3 linked regions of the Homo sapiens genome follow. The protein of the gene in region 3 interacts with the protein of the main gene of each other region in a pairwise test. Each region holds a gene or a part of one and is shown on either strand. Other genes may lie near its edges. The genes, in order: RIPOR3, CLIC3 and SCML4.

Region 1 (7,102 bases), on a different chromosome or scaffold from region 3:
TGTCCCTGTTTGGGGGCTCCCAGGGTCTCCGGTGAGTGCACCTCCTTCCAGCAGTGACCCAGTGGCCACCACTCCCACCGGGTGACCCGAGCTCCACGTTTCCTGCCAGCCTCCCCGTCTGTTTCTCCCACTGTCCTTGGCTCAGCTCTTGTCACTCTATCGTGCACCCTTCCCCATGCCATCCCCGCACATCCCCCACTTGCCTCAGAGCCGGTCCTCAGAGACCACGAAGTGGGTGAGATCACCCCAGCCTGCCCCTGAGCCTTCTGCTCCAAGGAACCAGCTTTTAGTATTATTTTTTAAACCTTAAAAATAATCACCAAGTATATAGTAGAAGTTCTTTGAGGCCAGGCACAGTGGCTCACGCCTGTAATCCCAACACTTTGGGAGGCCGAGGCAGGCGGATTACCTGAGGTCAGGAGTTCAAGACCAGCCTGGCCAACATGATGAAACCCCGTCTCTACTAAAAATACAAAAATTAGCTGGGCATGGTGGCAAGAGCCTGTAATCTCAGCTACTCAGGAGGCTGAGGCAGGAGAATCACTCGGACCCGGGAGGCGGAGGTTGCAGTGAGCCAAGATGGCACCACTACATTTCAGCCTGGGCGAAAGTAAGACTCTGTCTCAAAAAAAGAAAAAGAAAAAGAAAAAAAAAGCTCTTAGCCCCTAACCAAGGTGCAGCAGTATCCAGTGCTGTTCCCTCTGTCCCACCACAGGGCCCACACCTCTCATGACAGCTTCCCTCGAGGCTACGCAGCCTCACCTGCCCCAGCCCCCGAGGGCTTCTGCATCCGCATCTCACCACATGGAAGAGCAGAGGCTCAATTCCTTCTCCTCGCCTCTCACAATCCCACGGACGAGTGCGGTGTTTCGTGCCACACTTGCTTCCACCCTTCCTGAGTGGCTGAGTGGGTCGGGCAGCAGGTCTAGCCTCTACCACAGAGTGGACTTGGTGTGAGGCGCTCTTGCCCACCGTATTTCATGCACCCCTCACGGCCTTGAGTGTGGGGCTCCTGCCTCCCTTGATAGATGAGTCACCTGAGCCTTGGGGAGGCAGACTTGTCCAGCGTCACAGAGCTGGGATGAGTTGGAATTCTCTTCTACCTCCACGAGACATCCTGGAAGACGACTGCCCGCCCTGCCTTCCCCAGGCCCTTGGCCACACCTCCCAGCTCTGTTTCGAGTTGCTGCCACCCTTTGTTCCTTTCCCCTTCCTCTTCAGTTGAACTTCCTGGGACCTGGAGTGGGCCTCCTGACCTGGGGCTCGCTGGGAAGGGAGGGTTCCCCCACCCTCAGAGGGAGCTGAACTGCTAACTGGAATGGTCACCCAGTTCTCAATTCAACTCAGAAAGGACCGGCCCCTGCCCCCACCGTCATCACTGAAAGCGTCATCCAGGGAACTCACAGCCGGTGCCCCAGAGCTGGACGTGCTGCTGATGGTACACCTCCAAGTCTGCAAAGCTCTGCTGCAGGTGGCTGGGCTAGGGGACTTGTCAGGGAGGGGCAGACAGGGGTTTGGAGTCCTCTTTGCAAAGGCTCATCTTGAAGGTGGTGGGAAGCATGAAGGGGTGACAGACCTGCATCCTGGAAGCCCGTGAGACTGAAGCTATTCCCCAGTGGAAGAGAGGCAGACCAGGGTCTGGGTGAATACTCGTGTGGCTCTTACACAGGCCAAGCCCTAAACCAAAGGCTTTGGTGGTGACTCTCATTTATAGGTGCCAGAACCCTAATGCAAACTGGCTCAGCCAACAGGAAAATTTATCGGCTCATGGTACTGAAAGCCTCAGAGGTAGGCTTCAGGCTCGGCTGGATGCACGGGTTCAAATGCTATCAGGACTAGGTCTCTCTCAGTTCTGCTTTGCAATGTGGGTTGGCTTCACTTTCAGGCAGGTTGGTCCTCCTTCTGGGGGCAAAGGTGGTCCCTGGCAGCCCAGCCTGCATCCCATTAGCTCAGCCACCTTGGTGAAAGGGGAATCCCCAAATGACAGTCAGGGAGCTGCCCCCGGGACAGAAGAGATGGGCACAAGCAGGTGGGAGCCACAGCCGTAACAGCTGACCTCGGTGGGCATGTTCCATGCTAATCTGGAGCATCTGGGCTGCTTCCCAGAAACTGGCCTCCCCTAATTTATCAAGGCTGGTCCAGGAATGCCTCCTGGAAGAAGTGGCACAGCAAAAGCACGTTCTGGAGACACTTTCTGTCCTTGACTTTGAGAAGGTCGGCAAGGCAACATCCATTGAAGAGAGTAAGTAGCTGCCTGCCACCCAGGGGCTGCCTATGTGAGCGGCACGGGGACGGGATCAAAGCTCGGGGAGCCTCTTCTGCCTTCCTAATAGCCAGAGTTAATCGGGGCCCAGAGTGGAGGCTGTGGCTGGGCTGGGCTCAGAGATACACACTCTTTGTGGGGAGGTAAGGGAGACAAGTCCTGGAGTTGCAGCACACTCTTCAGTCAGCTGTGTGACTCTAGGCAAATGATTCACATCTCTGAGCCTCTGCTTCCCTATCTGCATAGGAGGAGGGCACTGCACGGGGTTCAGTGAGGTAACCCCAGGCCACATTCAAGGTGCAGAATGTGCCGTCAAACAGTAGCTGTGATCCCAGCTGTGCCTCTGCCCCGTGGGACCTCCCCTCAGAAGGCCAGGTTCCTTGTCTGTAAGGAGAGGCTGGTGACAGCAGCCCCTCCCAGGTTGTTGTGGGGACTGCAGGTGGTGGCCCTGGTAAGATGCTTAGAGCCAAAGTTGCTCACGTGTCACATGGGAATGCAGGGAAGGGACCTCGCATCAAGCCACACCGTCCCCTCCTCCCTACCCCCTCAGGTCCTAGTGGAGGGAAACCTTTCGGGTCCTTGTCATGTGCTCTCCCCGAGTCACCATTCAGGTTTCTGAACTGGGGCTTTCAGTCATCCCACAGGCCTCGCGGACGAAGGGGTGCCTGAAGCTGTGGAGAGGGTGCACAGGGCCTGGCAGGGTCCTGTCCTGCCCTGCCACGACGCTGCTGAACCAGCTCAAGAAAACCTTCCAGCACAGAGTCAGAGGGAAGTACCCAGGACAGCTGGAAATAGGTGGGTTCCCTTCTGTCCTGTCGTCCCCTCCCACAGAAAGGCTGTATTGAGTCTCCAGGGCCTTCAGGGTGGCCACAGCTGGCCTCATTTCAGCCCTGTCTTCACCTCTGTGTCTTCATGCCATCGGACGGAGGAGCTTTCTCAGCTTCAGTGCGAGTCACCGCCCTTTCACCGGGCGAGAAGGGGCCTCCACGTGGGGCCTTCTGAGCAGTCTGTGGAGCCCTGAAGCTGCGTGCAAACTTGGTGGGCCGGTGCATTTTTTTTTTTTTTTTTTTTTGAGATGGAGTCTCACTCTGTCGCCCAGGCTATAGTGCTGTGGCACAATCATGGCTCACTGCAACCTCTACCTCCCGGGTTCAAGCGATTCTTCTGCCTCAGCCTCCCGAGTAGCTGGGATTACAGGTGTGCACCACCACGCTTGGCTAATTTTCTTTTTTTGTATTTTTAGTAGAGACGGGGTTTCGCCATATTGGCCAGGCTGGTCTCGAACTCCTGACCTTGTGATTCGCCCGCCTCGGCCTCCCAAAGTGCTGGGATTACAGGCATGAGCCACTGCGCCCGGCCGCCAGAGCATTTTTCTGGGGACAGATTCCATGCCTCCCACCAGAGCCTGACGGGTAAAGAATGAACCTTATGGGAAGGGAGGCAGGCAGGGGCCCACGAGGGTATCTAGAAATGCTGGCTGGACTGCGTTCTTCCCCAGAATTTGCCTTTCTCTGTGGAGCAAGTGAAAGGTGACAGTCATGTTCCAAGCACCACCTGGACTGCTTGTTGACATGCATATTCCCAGGCCCTGCCTCCGGGATTTTGATCCAGGTGTGGTGTGGGGCCCAGGGCATGGGGATGAACCCAACACGGTCTGACTCAGGGTGAGTTGGAGTCACAGTCCTGACTCTAGCTGGGCACACTCCTCCCCTACAGCACAGGGAATGCAGTGAGGGACACCTGCCCTCGTGCCATCAGAAACCCTTTTTTTTTTTGAGATGGGGTTTCACTCATGGTTGCCCAGACTGGAATGCAGTGGCGCAATCTTGGCTCACTACAACCTCCACCTCCCGGGTTCAAGCGATTCTCCTGCCTCAGCCTCCAGAGTTGCTGGGAAACAGGCAGGCACCACCACACCCAGCTAATTTTGTATTTTTAGTAGAGATGGGGTTTCACCATGTTGGTCAGGCTGGTCTCGAACTCCTGACCTCAGGTGATCTGCCCACCTTGGCCTCCCAAAGTGCTGGGGTTACAGGTGCGAGCCACTGCGCCCGGCCCAGAAAGCCTTTTAGCTGACCAGGCTACTCCCAGCTGAGAAGCGTGGAGGGTCGAGGTCTCAGTTTCTCCTGATGTACTCTCCCCTTTGGCCAGCGTGCCGCAGGCTCCTGGAGCAGGTGGTCAGCTGTGGTGGGCTGCTCCCCGGAGCTGGGCTCCCAGAAGAACAGATCATTACCTGGTTCCAGTTTCACAGCTACCTGCAGAGGCAGAGCGTCTCTGACCTGGAGAAGCACTTCACCCAGCTCACCAAGGAAGGTAAGACTGGGGTGGGTGGCTGTCATAGCAGAGGAATATCCACGGAGCCCTGTCACATGCAGTTTCTCAGGTTATAATTCAGAACCACTACATCCATCCCCGCCAACTGTTCTTTTGGGAACCCCGATTTAATGAGATTCTGCGTTCAGCCGATGGGGGCTGATATTAGCTCCAAGGGAAGTCAGCTTTAAAAAGCACGGAACAGAGGTCAGAGCTGGGTAGGAGGGTGATCTTGGCTGGCCAGAGTCCCTGGAAGTGTGGGCTGTGGTTTTATTAATTTATGGAGCATATTTGACCCCTTGTTAAAAGGCCTTCCTGGAGATTCCAGGAGCTCCCTGTGAAATTAGTCCAGGCTGGGCCTTGGTGATCATCCCGGTGGGTCTGGGATTTGTTCCTCTGTGGCTACTGGCAGCAGCCAAGCAAACTTGCAGCTGTCCTGCCAAACTCCCATTCAGGGGACCTGGGCCCACCTCTTTCCTGTCTTCTAGTGACACTCATCGAGGAGCTTCACTGTGCGGGACAGGCCAAGGTGGTCCGGAAGCTGCAGGGGAAGCGGCTGGGCCAGCTCCAGCCTCTGCCCCAGACCTTAAGAGCCTGGGCGCTGCTCCAGCTGGACGGCACTCCGAGGGTGTGCAGGGCGGCCAGCGCTCGCCTGGCTGGTGCAGTCAGGAACAGAAGCTTCCGGGAAAAGGTACGTTGTCCAGGGCAGGTGGCAGACCCTGGCCACAGATGTGTGGGCATAGGTAAGCTGGTGTTCTCATGGAAAAGTACAAAGAAGTGAGTGCCAGGGGCTGCAGTAGCTGTGAGCTATTTTGATGGAGGGACCTGGGCTACGATCTAACACACATGAATGCACCTTGCTGCTTCCAAAGCAACACATCTGTTAGGCCTCTGAGATGTCACTTGCACGCTGAATGTTTTTCTTAGTGCGTTTTTTGTCTGTCTGTTTAGACAGAGTTCTGCTCTGTTGCCCAGGCTGGAGTCCAGTGCCACGATCTTGCAACCTCCACCTCCTGGGTTCAAGCAATTCTCCTGCCTCAGCCTCCTGAGTAGCTGGGATTACAGGCGCCCACCACCATACCCAGCTAATTTTTGTAATTTTAGTAGATACAGGGTTTCACCATGTTGGCCAGGCTGGTCTCAAACTCCTGACCCTGCGATCCGCCTGCCTTGGCTTCCCAAAGTGCTGGGATTACAGGCGTGAGCCACTGCGCCCAGCCTTTCTTAGTGTTTTGATAGTCATCCTTATTTACTTTCAATTAATATTCATGGCTACCTGGTAATGGGTCACTGTGTTCAGTCCATTTGAAAACCAAGAGAGTGGACCTCTCTGCTTTTTCACTCTTTGCCTGTAACTACTGTACGTTTAAGGCGCCACACCCTGAGGGGTTCAGGAAGGGTGACATCAAGGGCATAGTCTACACTGATGGTCTCAGCTCCAGACTAGAGAGGAAATCTCCAGTTCCATTGCCAATAGCCCTTCTTGGAGCCCATCCGCCTACTTTGTGGTTGTTTTTAACTCTTTATTTGGAGACTTTTGAACTTGCAAAAGTAGACAGAGCAATATAATGAATCCACCTGCACCCATAACCCAAGCCCAACCACCATCAACCCATGGCCAATCCTGCCCCTTTCCCCTCCACTCCCCTGTATCACTTTGAAGCAACCTGAGGCATCCTATTTGACCTTAAATAGTTAACTATATGTGTCAAAAGGTTAAGAATTCTTTCAAAAATCACAACTCTAACACCATTATCTTATCTAAAAAATTAACTATCAATTCCTTTATATCATATATCTTATGTTCAAATTTCCAAGCCTCAAGCATCCTGTTTTATTTTTTGTTAAAATAGTATCTACATAAGGACACACATTGTGATTGGCTGATGGCTTCCAATCAATCTAAAGGTTTTTTTCCCCGTTTCTTTCTCTGCTTGCAATTAATTTGATCGATCCCAGGTTGACCTAGACTATCTAGACTTTGCTGCTTGCAGGAAGTTTAACGGTAGTTTAATGTATTTCTCTGTCTTCTGTAGTTCCTGAAAACTAGTAGTTGGCTTCAAGGATCCACTGAAGTCAGGTGTATTTTGTTTTTTGGGTATGGGGGTATATAAACAAGGCCTCCATGGGAAGCAGAGGCTGCAGGGAGCCGAGATTGTGCTACTGCACCCCAGGCTGGGCAACGAAGTGAGACTCTGTCTCAAAAAAAAAAAAAAAAAGGGCCTTCATCTTCATGTGACAGACTTTAGAGAGTAGGAAACACTGAGGTGGGGGCCAACCCAGTGACAGATTGCTTGGCCTCAGATGAGGGTGCTGAGGAAGGAGTAGGCTGCCATGACCTGGGACCCTGGGGTTAGAGGCAGTGGGCAGTGTGACATTTCCACACCGATGTGGCCTCACAGCCTTCACCAGAGCCCTGTGTAGGAGGAGCGGGAGGACCCGATCCTACTCCCAGTCTGTCTTCCCAAAGCAGCAGACACTTTGGAGAGCCACCTGCAGATGGAAAGGCGGCCATTCTCTTTTGGC
Region 2 (7,355 bases), on a different chromosome or scaffold from region 3:
CCTCTCAGCTCCCTGGAGACTTCCTTGCTGGGCCGGAGGGAGGTGAGCACTCTCAGACCGTCCAGCTATTCCAGCCCTGCCAGCCCAGGAGCTGAGAGGGGCCCAGCCAGGCAGGGCCAGGGCTCCCCAAGGCTTAGAACTTTGTTCCCACCCTCCCAGGCCGCACCCAGGTAGGGCACGGAGCCCCGTGGGAGGATGCAGACAGAAGTCCCGTGTAGACCCTGAGACACTGGAAGTGCCCTGCGGGGAGGGGAGCGCCTGCCCCGGGACAGGATTGAGGAATGTGCCAGCCCCCATCCACCTGGGGCACCCCGCCCCACCCCGGCCTGACTGGTTTGGGAGCCCAGTCCGGTCCTGGAGATCCCTGAGGCCACCGGTTGCAGGAGGCCTGGAGTCTGCGCCTTCTTAGCGTGGAGGATGGGACCGGCCCGACCCCCGGCGCTCCTGCCCCTGTGGTTCTGGGCTATCGGGCTGAGCGTCCCACCCTGGGGTTTGGGGATGGGAAGTGATCCCGAGACCTCTGGCCCTTCAGATGTCAGGACACCCTCACTCCCGACAAAGATGCCTTTATTGGGCGACAGACGCGGGGTGGGGCGCTAGCGGGGGTGCACGGCGGGCCGGTAGGCCGCCAGGATCTCGGCGCTGTGCGGACACGTGTATTTGAACTCTTTCTCCTGCATCGCGCTGTCCAGGTAGCGGCGTACGCCGCGCAGCTCCGCGGGGATGGGCGCCTGGCGGAAGTGCGCGCACACCGTCTGCGGGCAGGATCGCGGGGCGCGGTCAGGACCTGCCGTCCCCCAGGCGCGCCGCGGTCACCCTCCCGCCCGCCCACCTTCCGTGCTCACGTCGACGATGTGCAGCTTGGGCAGGAGGCTGCAGTCGGCCAGCGTGAGCCTGTCGCCGTCCAGGAAGCGGCGGCGGGACTCGCGCAGCTGCGGCTCCCCCGCCAGCTCGTGCTCCAGGGGCGCGCGCAGGTAGCTGTCCAGCCTGGCGAGGGCGCGCAGCAGCTGCTGGTACAGGGCTAGGGGGCAGGCGGCGCGGTGAGGACCAGGCCCAGGGCGCCCTCCCGCCTGGGCACCCGACCCCCTGACCCCGCTTCACCTTCGTCCTGCGCGGGCACCGGGTTCTTGATGAACGCGGAGAACTTGTGGAAAACGTCGTTGCCGGCGGTGTTGGACTCCCTGTAACGAGGCGCCAGGCTGGGGAAGCTGCGGGATGAGGGGGTGGGACTCCATTAGACTGGGGGCAGCCCCGTCCCGGCCCCACAGTACCCCCACAGCGCCTTCCTGGGCTCTGTCTTGCGCGCGTCCTCCCTGGGCCCCCCTCTTTTCCCCTCCCACCCTGCCGGGGCTCTCACTCGGGCGGCCCCAGCGTCTCCTCCAGAAAGTCCTCGATCTGCAGCGTGTCTGTCTTGGCGTCGCTGTCATAGAGCAGGATGGGCAGCTGCGAGCCGGGGGCGAAGTCCTTCAGCACGTCCGGGGACCTGCGGGCAGCAGCGGGGTGGGAGGAGGCCGGCCCACCAGTGTGCGAGGCCAGGCGGGGGTCCACAGGATGGGGCCTCACCTGCGCGTGTCCACCGTGGTGAGGGTGAAAGGTACGCCCTTGAGGAGCAGGACCATGAAGAGCCGCTGGCAGGAGGGGCAGTGACCCACGCTCTCCCCGTCCTCACTCGCCTGGGTGGGTGGAGCGGGGGTGGGGGGTCAGGGCTGGAAGCAGACCCAGGCATCCTGCCGCCAGGCTGGGCGGGACCCGCCTCCCACTGCCAGTGGGATTGGAGGGACGCCAGGGCTCCAGCTTGGTCGGCGCGACTTCCAAGTGCCCAGTGAGGGCCCTTGACTTGGTCCCCAGAACGTGGGGAGGGGGGCAGAGCTGCTGGGAGCCTTGAGGCCTGGGGCAGGCTTGGCCCCTGGAATCTTGTCAGAGCCTGGACAGAGGCCAGGCCCCTGGGCTCAGTCCCCAAAAGCTGGTTGCAGGGGTGGGGTGGGCCTCACAAGCTGTTTTCTGAGTGATTCACACATGAGACTGGGCACTGTGGCCAACAGCACATCAGTCCCCCACCCCAGTCCCCGACCTGAGAGCTGATGGGGCTGCCTGGCCCAGCACCCCCCATCCTGGAACACCGACCGTAAGCTCCACTGTTGGCAGCCTGCTTGGTACCTCCCCACCAAGGAGCTCTCCTCCAGAAGACTGGGCTGGGCCCAGGAGCCAAGGCTGGGAGCAGGACCAGGGCCACTGACCCCTCTCTGGGTGACTCGCTGGGTCCCACTTTACTCAGCCTCTGTAGGGCTGCCTGAGTCCCCCTAGCCACCCACAGGAAGGGGCTCAGACATTACTGGGAGGCCCACCCCACAGCCTGCCACAGAAAGCAAAGCCCAGAAAAGCGCTTCCTCCCAGACACCCTCCCCGCAGCTGAGTCCGCCCTGCACCTTGACAAACAGCTGGAGCTTGGTCTCCGCCATGGTGGGAGCTGCCGCGGTCAGGCGCGGGTGGGGACCTGGGGAGCTCTTTAAGTCTCCCTGTGCGCCCCGCCCTCCCTGGCCGAGGGGCCCGCCCCGTGGAGCCACCTAGGCGGGCAGATGAAGCTGCCCAGCGCGCAGAACCAGCTGCCTGAGCAACGCCAGCCCGGCCCCGGGGTGTCTGAGCCTGAGGGTGTGACCTCAGGGTGGCGGAATGGTGTGGGGGGCTGCCCTGGACTTGAGTCTGGTGTGCACGGAGATCCGCCCACCCGGTACTGAGTGTGCTGGGAGCCAGCGTGGTGGGTGGAGACCAGGGGGCAGGGCATAGGGAGAGCCTACAGGCCAGAAGGGTGCAGGGGGTGTCACCTGGGAAGGGGGCGGCTCTGGGTCAGGACCACCTCCACCGTGAACCCAGCTCAGACCCTGCCCTATGGCTCTCCCTTCCGCAAATACCCCTTGTCAGGGCTCCCAGCCCAGAAAGCCAGTGGGTGTGGGTGAGCAGGAGAAATGGCCTGCCCAGCCTGGCTTCAGTTCCCCATCTGCAGCACCAGGGCATCGGGAGGGTGATAAGCCCACCTGGGGGAGCCGCCCCTTCCCAGCTACGGAGCAGTCAGGCAGGGCCCTCCCCGCTCAGGGCAGGGCTCAAATTCCAGACCTGCCCGCAACAGGGCGGGGAGGCCAGCCTGGCTTTGGTGTTTGGCCGGCAGTGCAGGTCTCCACCCCACCTCCCATCCCTCCCACTGGCGCTCAGCGCAGGTTTCTTACCCCCAACCCCTTAACCTTTAAAAAGAAGCAGCAGGAGAGGGGTTAGAAGCCACAGCCTGCGTGGCTGGAAGAAAGAGGCCAGGGGAGGGTGGTGGTCCACAGGTGTGAGCCTGCGCTGAGCCTCCTGGCGTGATTGGAACCCACAGTTCAGTCTGGCCCTTTGGGGTCGCCAACTGTGCCTTCCTCCCACCTGGCCCTGACGCTTTAGGGTGCAGCCCCAGGGAGGTACACCGAGGGGAGATTCCACCCAGAGACCTGGGGTGCCCACAGGATTGGCCTGGCCACACCTCCCCCAGGCGGTGTGGTGCCTCACCAGCCTGGACAGGGCAGCTGAGGTGGCACTGCTCTCCTGCTCACCTTCTCCCCAGGGCCTTGGTACGGGCCCCTCATCCGTCCCCGGTGGAACACACTCCAGTGCTGCCCCAGTCAGCCCAGCCTGATGCTTCTCTGGATACCACGCCAGTCGGGGCTCCTGGACACAGAGCCTTGGAAATACCATGTGGCTGCCCCATCCTTTGGTGTCCTGAACCTCAATTTCCCTCCATCCGGCCTCCACCTCGATTCCAAGCCCTAGTATTTCAGCTCTTTCTGGACACTGTGGTTATAGCTCCGCTTGCTGGTTTCCCACATCCCTGGCAGGCAAATGGCCAACCACAGAGAAGCCCCAGGCCCCCAGCCCCCTCTGCTGCCCCGGCATCCTGTGTCTTTAACACCGACAGACGCACCCTCACAAACCCACAGGAAAAATGACGGCACGGACAGAGGCCGTGAACCGGTGGCTCAGAAGGAAAAAGAAAACAAGACACAGGAAGACCATTCACCTCACGCCCGTCTCAAGAAACAAACCAACAAGACTCGGTTCACCGCTGCAGCGGCCCCACTGCGTTCTGTGGGCGTGGGCTGTGGACTGTGGAGCGGCAGTGGCCATCCAACACCCCCCTGTGCCCTCGCCACCTGGGAATCAGCCCGGTGGCTTCCTTTTTTTTTTATGGTTTAATCAATTCATTTATTTACTAGAAACAGGGTCCTGCCATGTTGCCCAGGCTGGTCTCCACCTCATGGGCTCAAGTGACCCACCTGCCTTGGTCTCCCACAGTGCTGGAACTACAGGCGCGAGCTGCCACACCCGGCCGGTTTCCCTGTGAAGGGCAAGTGAGTGCTGGCTGCCCCACTGCGTGGCGTGGCGTGGCGTGGCGTGGCTCCGTGGCACGGCCACCACCCTGTCTATGGGAGACTCCAGTTGTGTCCAGGGAGAAGGACGGAAAAGGTGACTCCATGCATGCCCACTGCAGGGAGGGCCTGAGATTAGGTAAATGGCGTGGCTTGTGTCCCCTTAAATTTAAATTCTTAGGCTGGAGTCCTAACCCCTAGTGCCTCAGAATGTGACCTTATATGGGCCGGGCACGGTGACTCATGCCTGTAATCCCAGCAGTCTGGGAGGCCGAGGGGGGTGGATCACCTGAGGTCAGGAGTTTGAGACCAGCCTGACCAACATGGTGAAACCCCGTCTCTACTAAAAATACAAAAATTAGCCAGGCATAGTGGCAGGCACCTGTAATCCCAGCTACTCGGGAAGCTGAGGCAGGAGAAGTGCTTGAACCCGGGAGACAGAGTTGCAGTGAGCAGAGATAGTGCCACTGCATTCCAGCCTGGGCAACAGAGCAAGACTCCATCTTGGAAAAAAAATAAAGAATGTGACCTTATGTGGAAACAGGGGCTTTTTAACATTTTTTTTGAGACAGAGTCTTGCTCTGTTGCCCAGGCTGGAATGCAGTGGTGCAATCTCGGCTCACTGCAACTTCTGCCTCCTGGGTTCAAGCAATTCTACTTTCTCAGCCTCTGGAGTAGCTGGGATTACAGGTACACGTCACCACGCTGAGCTTTTTTTTTTTTTCCTTGTATTTGTAGTAGAGACAGGGTTTCACCATGTTGATCAGGCTGGTCTCGAACTCCTGACCTCAGAAGATCTACCCACCTTGGCCTCCCAAAATGCTGGGAATACAGGTGTGAGCCACCGCACCCGGCTGAAATAGGGTCTTTATAGAAGTTATCAAGTTAAAATGTGGTGAGTAGGATGTGCCCTGATCCAATATGACTGATGTCAGTATAGAAAGGCGAGTTTGGACACAGATGCACAGGGAGGGCCGCAGGCAGAAATCAGGGTGGCACATCTGTAAGCCTGGGAGCCAAGCGGATGCTCTCCAAGGCCCTTGGGAGGAAGCAGCCCTGCCCAAGCCTAGGTGCTATGTCTGACCTCCAGACTGCTAGGCAGTGAGCTTCTGTTTTTTTTGTTTTTTTTTTTTAATGAGATGCAGTCTTGCTCTGTCGCCCAGGCTGGAGTGCAGTGGCACAATCTCGGCTCACTGCAAGTTCTGCCTCCCCAGGTTCACGCCATTCTCCTGTCTCAGCCTCCCAAGTAGCTGGGACTACAGGCGCCCGCTACCACACCTGGCTAATTTTTGTATTTTTAGTAGAGACGGGGTTTCACTGCGTTAGCCAGGATGGTCTCGATCTCCTGACCTCGTGATCCGCTCGCCTCGGCCTCCCAAAGTGCTGGGATTACAGGCGTGAGCTCCCGCGCCCCGCGGTGTTGTTGTTTTAAGATGGAGTCTCACTGTCACCCAGGCTGGAGTGCAATGGCTCAATCTCGGCTCATTGCAACCCGCGCCTCACCGGCTGAAGCGATTCTCCTGCCCCAGCCTCCCGAGTAGCTGGGATTACAGGCGCCCACCACCACGCCTGGCTAATTTTTGTATTTTTAGTAGAGACGGGGTTTCACCATGTTGGTCAGGCTGGTCTCAAACTCCTGACCTCAAGTGATCCGCCCACCTCGGCCTCCCAAAGTCAGTTTCTGTTGTTTTAAACCCCTCACTTTGTGGTCCTTTGCATGGCAGCGCCAGCAAGCTAATAAGTAAAGCAGGGAGAAGCCAGGAAATGGAAGAAAATCAGCATTAGGATCTGTCATTCTGAGTCTCTACTTGAACAGAGCTGAAAAAAGACGCAAGGAGCTGTCTGTGGGATGACCCCTGACAGGCAGAAACAGGCTTTCAGTTTTGCTTCCTGTCTGTCCACACTGTTTGCATTTTCTACCACATTTTTGTAATACCACATTTTCTACCACAATTTCATAATGTTTTGAAGTAAGAACAGTATCACAGCCACTAACCTTAACTAGACCCTGGTCCCCGAGGCCACGGGGTTATCCCTAAACCTCCCGTCCCCTGCAGCCCCTGCTCCTGATTCATAGAGCCAGCGTTAGAGGGGCCCAAGCTGAGGTCCCGAGGCTGCTGCTCTGGGACTGACTGACTGGTGGGTTAGAACTCTCTCCCTCCCCAACACCCCTCCCTGTAGGCCCCTTCCAAGGGGCTCTTTTTTTTTTTTTTTTTTTTTTTTTTTGAGACAGGGTTTCACTCTGTCACCCAGGCTGGAGTGCAATGGCGCAGTCATAGCTCACTGCAGCCTCCACCTCCTGGGCTCCAGTGATCCTCCTGCCTCCGCCTGCACAGGGCCACACCCCAGTGACATTTGAGCAGCTCTGTTCTGAAGGGAGACACACACCTGTTTGGGGGGCCGGAGGGCTGGGGGCATTGGGGTATTGGTGCAAACTTGTGCAGAGATTTATCTGCTCTGTGCATGGAGAGAGCCTAGAAGCAGTGAGACCTCGGGAGCGGTGAGACCTCGGGGGCGGCGAGACATCGGGGGCGGCGTGACCTCGGGGGCGGCGAGACCTCGGGGGCGGCGGGACCTCGGGGGCGGCGGGACCTCGGGGGCAGCGAGACCTCGGGAGCAGTGTGCAGACCAGAGCTCAGATTCTGGTCCCAAAGCCCATCTTCCCTAAAAGGAACCAGGGTTCTGCTAGGGACTGAATGTGTCCTCCCCAAAATTTGTGTGTTGAAACCCTGGCCCCTAGGCCAGGCACATGGCTCACGCCTGTAATCCCAGCACTTTGGGAGGCCGAGGTGAGTGGATCACCTGAGGTTGGGAGTTCCAGACCAGCCAGACCAAAATGGGGAAACCCTGTCTCTACTAAAAATGCAAAATTAGCCGGGCGTGGTGGCACATGCCTGTAATCCCAGCTACTCGGGAGGCTAAGGCAGGAGAATCGCTTGAACCTGGGAGGCAAAGTTTCCGGTG
Region 3 (7,601 bases):
TCTCTCCTCACCTGTCTGCTTTTGAAGGCAATGAAAACATTAAAAAATGTGTAAATCTAAAACTAGCCTTTTGAGAGATGGCAGAATTAAGAAATAAGATGTCTAGGGAGGCATTGTTTAAAAGTTCCTTCTTAGAAACATCAGATGTGCCCACCAAAAGAAAGAAGCTTGTGTGATCACACCAAAGGCAACTGCTTTCACAAACTTCATCCACAAAATGTTAGACAAGATTTTACGCTCCATGATAATCAGATTAAAAGAGGGTCTTTTCTCATCTCCTTTCCCTTCTTTCCCATTCCATCCCCACATAAAATCTGAGGGCTCAGGGGAAGAATGACACTGGAGATGCTTGGTATCCTAAGGCTCCCAGCCCAATGAGGGGTAGTGTCACCTGCCACGCTCTTCAGGACTTGTGGAGTGGGATGGGCACATCCCGGCTCCCTGGCATCTACCCATGTGATATTGAGGTTTCCGAGGGCAGGGACTTGGGGAGGAAAATTGTCCTGCAGATCCCTAACAGGGCCCCTGTGAGGGCTTTCAAGCTCCAGCCACCACCTCTGCCTGGACCAAAAGTTCTTTAAGGTGCGTGTCATAAAGGATGTGTGGACACATGTGTGATGTGTCCTCAGGCCACACAAAATTGTAAACAGACCTACGAAGCACTCTAACATTTAAGCCCCCAGACTCCCAGAAAGGTTATTCCTCTCCGAGCATTCCTTGTTATGATTTCAGGGAACTTCAGTTATGTTTCCTTAAAAGTATTGAAGTATTTGAGATCCAAAATTGAGATTAAAAATACATAAACAGCAGAGATGATTTTCTCATCATTTCAAATTTTAAAAATTAAAAAAGTCTATCTTTGTACTTTGGGGTAGTGCTTGAATTTTTTAATAGGAAAGTGTTACTGAGTATTTTTTTAAAGTCAATATTGTTTTGAACTCTCATTATAAAAGTTCTTGCAGCAAGTGACAGTATTTGGGTCTGGCTTGTTTTCTGTGGGCTGAGCTGCTTAGCTTACCTGCTGCTTGCTAGAGGAGACAGCCTTTCACCCTCACCCCCAGGAGTCAAGAACCAGAAAGTGAAACTGCTTCTGCTGATTTCCCTCGCCTCGAAAACACACCACCAAAAGCAAAGAAATGATGAAAAGCAACTTACTCGTTTCGCTTATTGTTTTCTTGTCTTTCTATTACCGTTCATTTACTCTTTTCTTTTTTTCTTTTCTTTTTTTTTTTTTGCAGCAAAATAAAAGTAATTTTGGGGACACAGGGAAGAAATGTAAACATGTTATACATGAAAGAACTGGATTTTTGTGGGCTTTGCACTTTTGTTATAATTCCACAAATGAAGCAAACTGATGAATTTACCAAAATATTTCAGAGCTCATCTACGTACACAATTTAAAGAGCTAAAGAAAACACATTCATATTTTTTAAAAATTCTGTCAAAAAGCCTGTTTAAAAGTTATAGTTTGTGAAGCCACCAATTTCCCTAAAACTGAAGATTCTACATTAACCTTTTGAGTTTAGACGATCACGCAGTACCGATTTTCTAGGTAATCTTCACCCAGCTGCTGTTGCTCAAACAGCCCCTCATTTTATCAGACTAGTTCTACCAAGCAACACAAAAAATGCTCCACACAAATATTATACCCCCCAGATAGTTTAACACACTAAGAATTCCTTTGTAGTTATTTTTATGCTTTCACTCCAGATATTCTATTTTGCTTTAAAAAAAAAAAAGTGGAGAAAAAAAGCAGCTATATCCCTCATTCTTCAAAAATGGTTCCTCTGGTTGAAAAGAAAGAAAAACAGCATATAACAAATACCCTGATTCTGAAGTGCCTGGATTACTTTCTCAAGTACTGTAGTGTCTGAGATCAGTAAAAAACCACTTTCTCAGAAAGCCACTGATTGTCTAACCCTCATGAGTACCGTCATGGAATCTAGAGACAACACGAGGAGACACCTCTCGTTCACGATCACAGATAGTGGAAAGAACTTTGACTCAAGCACCTCAACTCAGCAAAACAGCTCAGCAGCCTGCACCCTGGCCTCATCCACCGCTCCTGTCCAGCCAGCAATCAACCTGGAGAGGACCCCTCATGCTTTGGGAGGAGCACGTGGAAGCTGGTTCAAGTCACAGTGCTCCACCTGGGAAGGAGGTGATTTTGAGCTTGGGAAAACTGCCGCTAATACTCCATAGTCACCAGTTTTTTTCCCAAAAAACGAATTAAAACCAGAAACTAGCAGTAAATATTATTCTTATTTATGCCTCATAAATTAGGAAAAACCAGCACAAAGACATGTGAAATATTCTACCTGGGATATTTGAAATAAAATTAAATGGGAAAAAAAACACTTTTACATGTTCATAACATACCAATTTTAATAACCAAATTTTAGGTAAATATTTTTATCCCAAGACATAGTACAATTTTTTTAAAATTAAAAAGCAAAACAAAGCAAAATTATCGTGAAGGGAAAAAATAACTAACCGGTTACTTGAGTTCACATTTGGAAAAAAATAACTTTCTAGGTATTTAAATGCAGAGTTAAAGAGTAATGAACATGTATATAGCCCAAATTTATAAACTATATAATTCAATGTTACATTTTCCCCTCTGAGATCTGGTTAATAAATTAAATGCTGTACTTTGCATATGAGGAACTAAAGTTTACCTACTGGACTCAGTGGTTTTAGTGCAGGACACTCTTGTGCGTTGCCATAGAGGTAGGCATGCAACCCAGAAAAAACTGAAACAGGTAACCTGTCATGCTGACAGTTACAAGAGAAAGATCCCGTGTCAACGGCACGCCTCCAATTGTGCATCTCCCTTACCTACAGCTTGTTCACCAGAGCCCTGAGCAGGTTGTTTACCAGGTCGGGAGTGTTGACTCAGAAGACAGATGACTTTCAGCACATGCAAACCGAGTATTGCAAAAGCTATCTTCCACCCGTGTTAGTAGCTCACAGTTAGTCTCCAGCAGCCCTGCGCTCCAGCTGCAAACATCTCATTAGACTAATGCATTCAGCACAGGCAGAAAACTCGATTTACCATAGCTACAGCAATGAATTTCCATTACGATGACAGCTTCAACCACATCATGTCCGGAAAACCAGCCAACCACTGGCTTTTAAAGAACACACACATTTTACATGCAGAAAACGAGGCCTCTGTGTGTGTGTGTGTGTGTGTGTGTGTGTGTGTGTGTGTGTGTGTGTGTGTGTGTTTTGTGTTTCCTTCCTCTTAGCAGCCTAAGAGAAATGTGCAGTGTAGCTTTTTGTCGACATGAGCTGCAAGGTAATGACACTTCTGCTTCTTTGGTAGTTACATCCTTGTAATAACCTGAATTATGTCACAATGGTTAGAATGGGTGTTTCCAACATTTCAGTTTTCATTACCCCTCCTCTGTTGCCATAGAAACCAGACTGTAACATCGTCTCTTTGTCCCAATCCTGCAGCAGTGTGGGCCAACACCAGGCTTATAAGACACTGGTGATCTGACAGAGTGAATGTTTGACTTTGGACAAATAAAACAAAAAGAAATATTACAATAGCATCATTGTTCAGGAGACCCTGTGTGATTCCCAGAGCAGTGTGCCTATCCAGGTGTGTGCACACACCATGGTTGTACATATTAAATCAGCGGCTGCCCACAACATATGTGTACAGTTCATTAAAGCCGGCCCTGACTTTGGCTCCAGGCCTGTATGTGTGTGTGTGTAAGCATCTCTACCCACCTCAACGTGGTGGGACCTGCACAGGATAGAAACAGGGCAAGAGTGACTATTCATTCCCATGCCCCATTGCATTTTCTGCAGCAAATCAATATATATCGGCGAAGGGATCTTTTCTTTTCCTTTCTTTTTGTAAAGTGGAGCAGGGCTCCCCATTGCCCATTTCATCCACTCTGGGATATTGGCATATTCACAGGTATTTCCTACAAGATGAAACATCCATTCTACAAACATGTGGCTTACTCCTAGGGATGAGCAGCAAACAAATTTAGCCGGGACTAAATATCAACCAGGGCTAACGAAGGCTTAGGCCACAACCTGGCCAGTTACTGAGAGTGAAAAAAACTGCAATGGACAACTTGAGGTTTCTCTAAATATATGTGTAGAGTCACATTAGAAGTACATAAGAAATCTCTCCTCTGAAATTTATTATGAAAATATAAAAAATTGTTTTAAGTCAAAGCCTTGTAATTAATTGAGCAAGAAGAAATTCACTACTTTAGTTCATTTAATCATCAAATTTTGTTGTTTTGTATGGGAAAAGGCAGGTTTGGTAGTTTGCATTTTCATTTCATATAAGTTGATTTCACTAAAGAAGGAGGAAGAGGAGAAGAAAAGAAAATAAGATGGATGGGCCAGGTGCAGTGGCTCATGCCTGTAATCCCAGCACTTTGGGAGGCCAAGGCGGGTGGATCACGAGGTCAGGAGATCGAGACCATCCTGTGAATGGTGAAACCCCGTCTCTACTAAAAATACAAAAAATTAGCTGGGCGTGGTGGCGGGCGCCTGTAGTCCCAGCTACTTGGGAGGCTGAGGAGGGAGAATGGCGTGAACCCGGGAGGCGGAGCTCACAGTGAGCCGATACCGTGCCACTGCACTCCAGCCTGGGTGACAGAGCGAGACTCCATCTCAAAAAAAAAAAAAAAAAAAAGAAAATAAGATGGATGGGCTAGGTGTGGTGGCTCATGCCTGTAATCCCAGCATTTTGGGACTCCTGGACTTGAGGTTAGGAGTTCGAGACCAGACTGGCCAACATGGTGAAACCCCATCTCTACTAAAAATACAAAAATTAGCCAGGCTTGGTGGCGCTTGCCTGTAATCCCAGCTACTCGGGAGGCTGAGGCAGGAGAATCGCTTGAACCTGGGAGGGAGAGGTTGCAGTGAGCTGAGATCACGCCATTGCACTCCAGCTTGGGTGACAAGAGTGAAATTCCATCTCAAAAAAAAAGAAAAAAGAAAGAAAAAGAAAAGAAGAAAAGAAAAGAAAAGAAAGAAAAGAAAAAGAAGAAAAGAAAAGGAAAGAAAAGGAAAGAAGATGGATGATTTAAGTTTGGACAGCATCTCTGTCCCAGCGACAGCGGTTATTATACTCACACCCGTGGCCTCACACATGCCACACTACACTGAGCTTAAAGCACCTGGAATGGGCTGAGACATTAGACCAATTTTCACTCTAAAATGTTTCTTAGGATTAAAAAAAATAACATTTCTTAAGTAATCAGAAATAATCTCCAAGTCCTGTAAAAGAAGTAAAAGGGTTGGCAGAATCTACCCATAAGAAAGGAGTTGCTGGTTTTCCTACCCAGCTCTGTGAGGGTTTCTCACTCTGATCCTCAGGCCCAACCTCCTTGCCTCCTCCCAGATGGGCTACTGTTGTCCTTGTCCTCAAGGTGGGTGCATGTGGGAAGCACCCATTGTCATCTAACAGGTCAACTTGGTAATAAAGCCTAAAATTGAAATCAACAAAAGCTGGATTGCTTGGGCGCGGTGGCTCACGCCTGTAATCCCAGCACTTTGGGAGGCTGAGGTGGGCAGATCACAAGGTCAGGAGATCGAGACCATCCTGGCTAACACGGTGAAACCCCGTCTCTACTAAAAATACAAAAAATTAGCTGGGAGTGGTGGCAGGCGCCTGTAGTCCCAGCTACTTGGGAGGCTGAGGCAGGAGAATGGTGTGAACCCGGGAGGCGGAGCTTGCAGTGAGCCGAGATCACGCCACTGCACTACAGCCTGGGCGACAGAGCGAGACTCCGTCTCAAAAAATATATATATTTTTTATATATATGTATATATTTAAGTAAACAATATTTATTTACTTAAATATGTTATTCAAAATATTTGATATTTAATAAATTATTCATTAAATTATGTAATTTAATAAATTTAATAAATATGTAAATATATTTATTTAAATATATCTTTATATTTTTATTTAAATATATTTACATTTTTATTTAAATATATATTTACATTTTTATTTAAATATATATTTGTTTTTTACTTAAATGTATATTTTTATTTAAATATATCTTTATATTTTTTACTTAAATTTTTTTATTTAAATATATCTGTATATACACACATTTATTAAAATATATATATTTAAACTTACTGGGATTTCTTTCTTCATGCAACCAGGAACATAGCTTTTAATAACTTAAATCAATATTTTAAAAAATCCTAAATGTTTTTAATTCCAAGAAAAATTTAAGTTAAACATGTAAGAAAAAAGAAATTTGATGGGATGACTGGTATTAGCTGAGGGACCTGCTAAGAAGAAAAGTGACCGCTCTGAGCTAGCATCTCTCTAAGTCTTGTACATCCCTGTCCCATGAAAAGGGTGCTTAGGTTGTGCCACGTTGTTAATTTTCTTTGCACTGTGGTTACATTTCTGTCTCAGACCACAAGCAGCATGTTCCACTCTCTCCACACGAGTGCTACTGGGCTGGTGGTTAGCAGGAGGCAACCAGAGGGAGCAAGTTAATTTGGGGGCGTCCCAAATGCAAATCTACTTAGAGTAGCCTCCATTTGAAGAGTAATCCTTCTGTCAGCTGCTGGTAAAGACACCGTTCACATTGAAAATGGCCTTTGTCCTAAAGAGTTGTGTTTTCCAACACAAGCATCCGATCGAGAGGATTCTGTCTTGGACTGGCAGTCAGTGCTACCGCCGAAACAACCTTTGTTATAACAGTGATAGCTAACATTTACTGAAGAATTATGTGTGAAGCCCTTCCCATTTTGTATCCCATTTATGACAATCCTATGAAGTAGGTATTATGATACCATTCCCATCTTACAGATAAGGAAACTGAGACTTAGGGATGTTAAATAACTTGCCCAAGGACACACAGCTTAGAAGTGGTAGACACAGGTCTGACCCAGGCAGTCTGTGCCCAAAGATACTCTAATTAATCATTCCACCTCATGGATCCTGGCACTGCCACTTGTTCCAGCCCTACCACTAACCCAATGACATGGGTGAAATCATTGACTTTCTATAACACGGGACAAGGAAATAAGGGACTAGATCATCTTTGTGGTCACTTATGGCTCTGACATTTCACAAGCCTAAGAACTGCTTTATCTCTAACTCAAAACATCGGTCTGCTGAAACAGGATGACGCTTTGGGTTGGAGGAGTGCTTAGTTGTGATTATGGATATGGCCATAATTACAAAGGGGCAAAAAGTGTCCTTTCTCTCATTAGGATAAGACCTAGTAAACTAGAGCTTTGGATATCAATTTGGAGCAAAGGTAGGGAGGAGAGAGCATGGAGAAAGAACACGAAGAAAAGCTAAGATTCCATTTCTGTAGTAAGGAAGGGAGAACAGCCTCCCACACTCCAGAGGCCCCACAGCTTCCCTTCCACATCATTCAACACAAGTTTGAGAACCTTAGGGGCTATGGAAAGCATAAGGCTTATGATTACCATTTTGCAGCAAATAGTTAACCTAATTAGTCAGACTACACAAGAGTGGGTGCCAGATCTCTTGACTCCCCAGTCTGTCGCTTCTTCAACCCAAAGGCCTGCCTTTCATGGGGCCAGATCTTAGCTTCAACTACTCAAGCAGGGATCTTTTAAAG

What was found.
Region 1: the proteins of SCML4 (region 3) and RIPOR3 interact in binary tests that used the Homo sapiens proteins (3 or more experiments, as listed by UniProt).
Region 2: the proteins of SCML4 (region 3) and CLIC3 interact in binary tests that used the Homo sapiens proteins (3 or more experiments, as listed by UniProt).

Annotation. Positions count from the first base shown.
Region 1 is NC_000020.11:50,590,509-50,597,610, reverse strand, and holds part of RIPOR3 (RIPOR family member 3), read left to right. Parts: coding exon 1-31; intron 32-1,221; coding exon of another isoform or gene 1,222-1,225; exon of another isoform or gene 1,226-1,311; intron 1,312-1,347; coding exon 1,348-1,471; intron 1,472-1,714; coding exon of another isoform or gene 1,715-1,729; exon of another isoform or gene 1,730-2,069; intron 2,070-2,106; coding exon 2,107-2,242; intron 2,243-2,509; coding exon of another isoform or gene 2,510-2,586; exon of another isoform or gene 2,587-2,847; intron 2,848-2,896; coding exon 2,897-3,058; intron 3,059-4,414; coding exon 4,415-4,576; intron 4,577-5,064; coding exon 5,065-5,267; intron 5,268-7,102.
Region 2 is NC_000009.12:136,994,085-137,001,439, forward strand, and holds CLIC3 (chloride intracellular channel protein 3), read right to left. Parts: upstream 2,485-7,355; 5' UTR 2,460-2,484; coding exon 2,427-2,459; intron 1,674-2,426; coding exon 1,564-1,673; intron 1,484-1,563; coding exon 1,358-1,483; intron 1,209-1,357; coding exon 1,102-1,208; intron 1,022-1,101; coding exon 846-1,021; intron 756-845; coding exon 597-755; 3' UTR 524-596; downstream 1-523. UniProt on the Homo sapiens protein: In the soluble state, catalyzes glutaredoxin-like thiol disulfide exchange reactions with reduced glutathione as electron donor.
Region 3 is NC_000006.12:107,821,288-107,828,888, forward strand, and holds the start of SCML4 (sex comb on midleg-like protein 4), read right to left. Parts: upstream 3,027-7,601; 5' UTR 2,839-3,026; intron 1-2,838. UniProt on the Homo sapiens protein: Putative Polycomb group (PcG) protein. PcG proteins act by forming multiprotein complexes, which are required to maintain the transcriptionally repressive state of homeotic genes throughout development.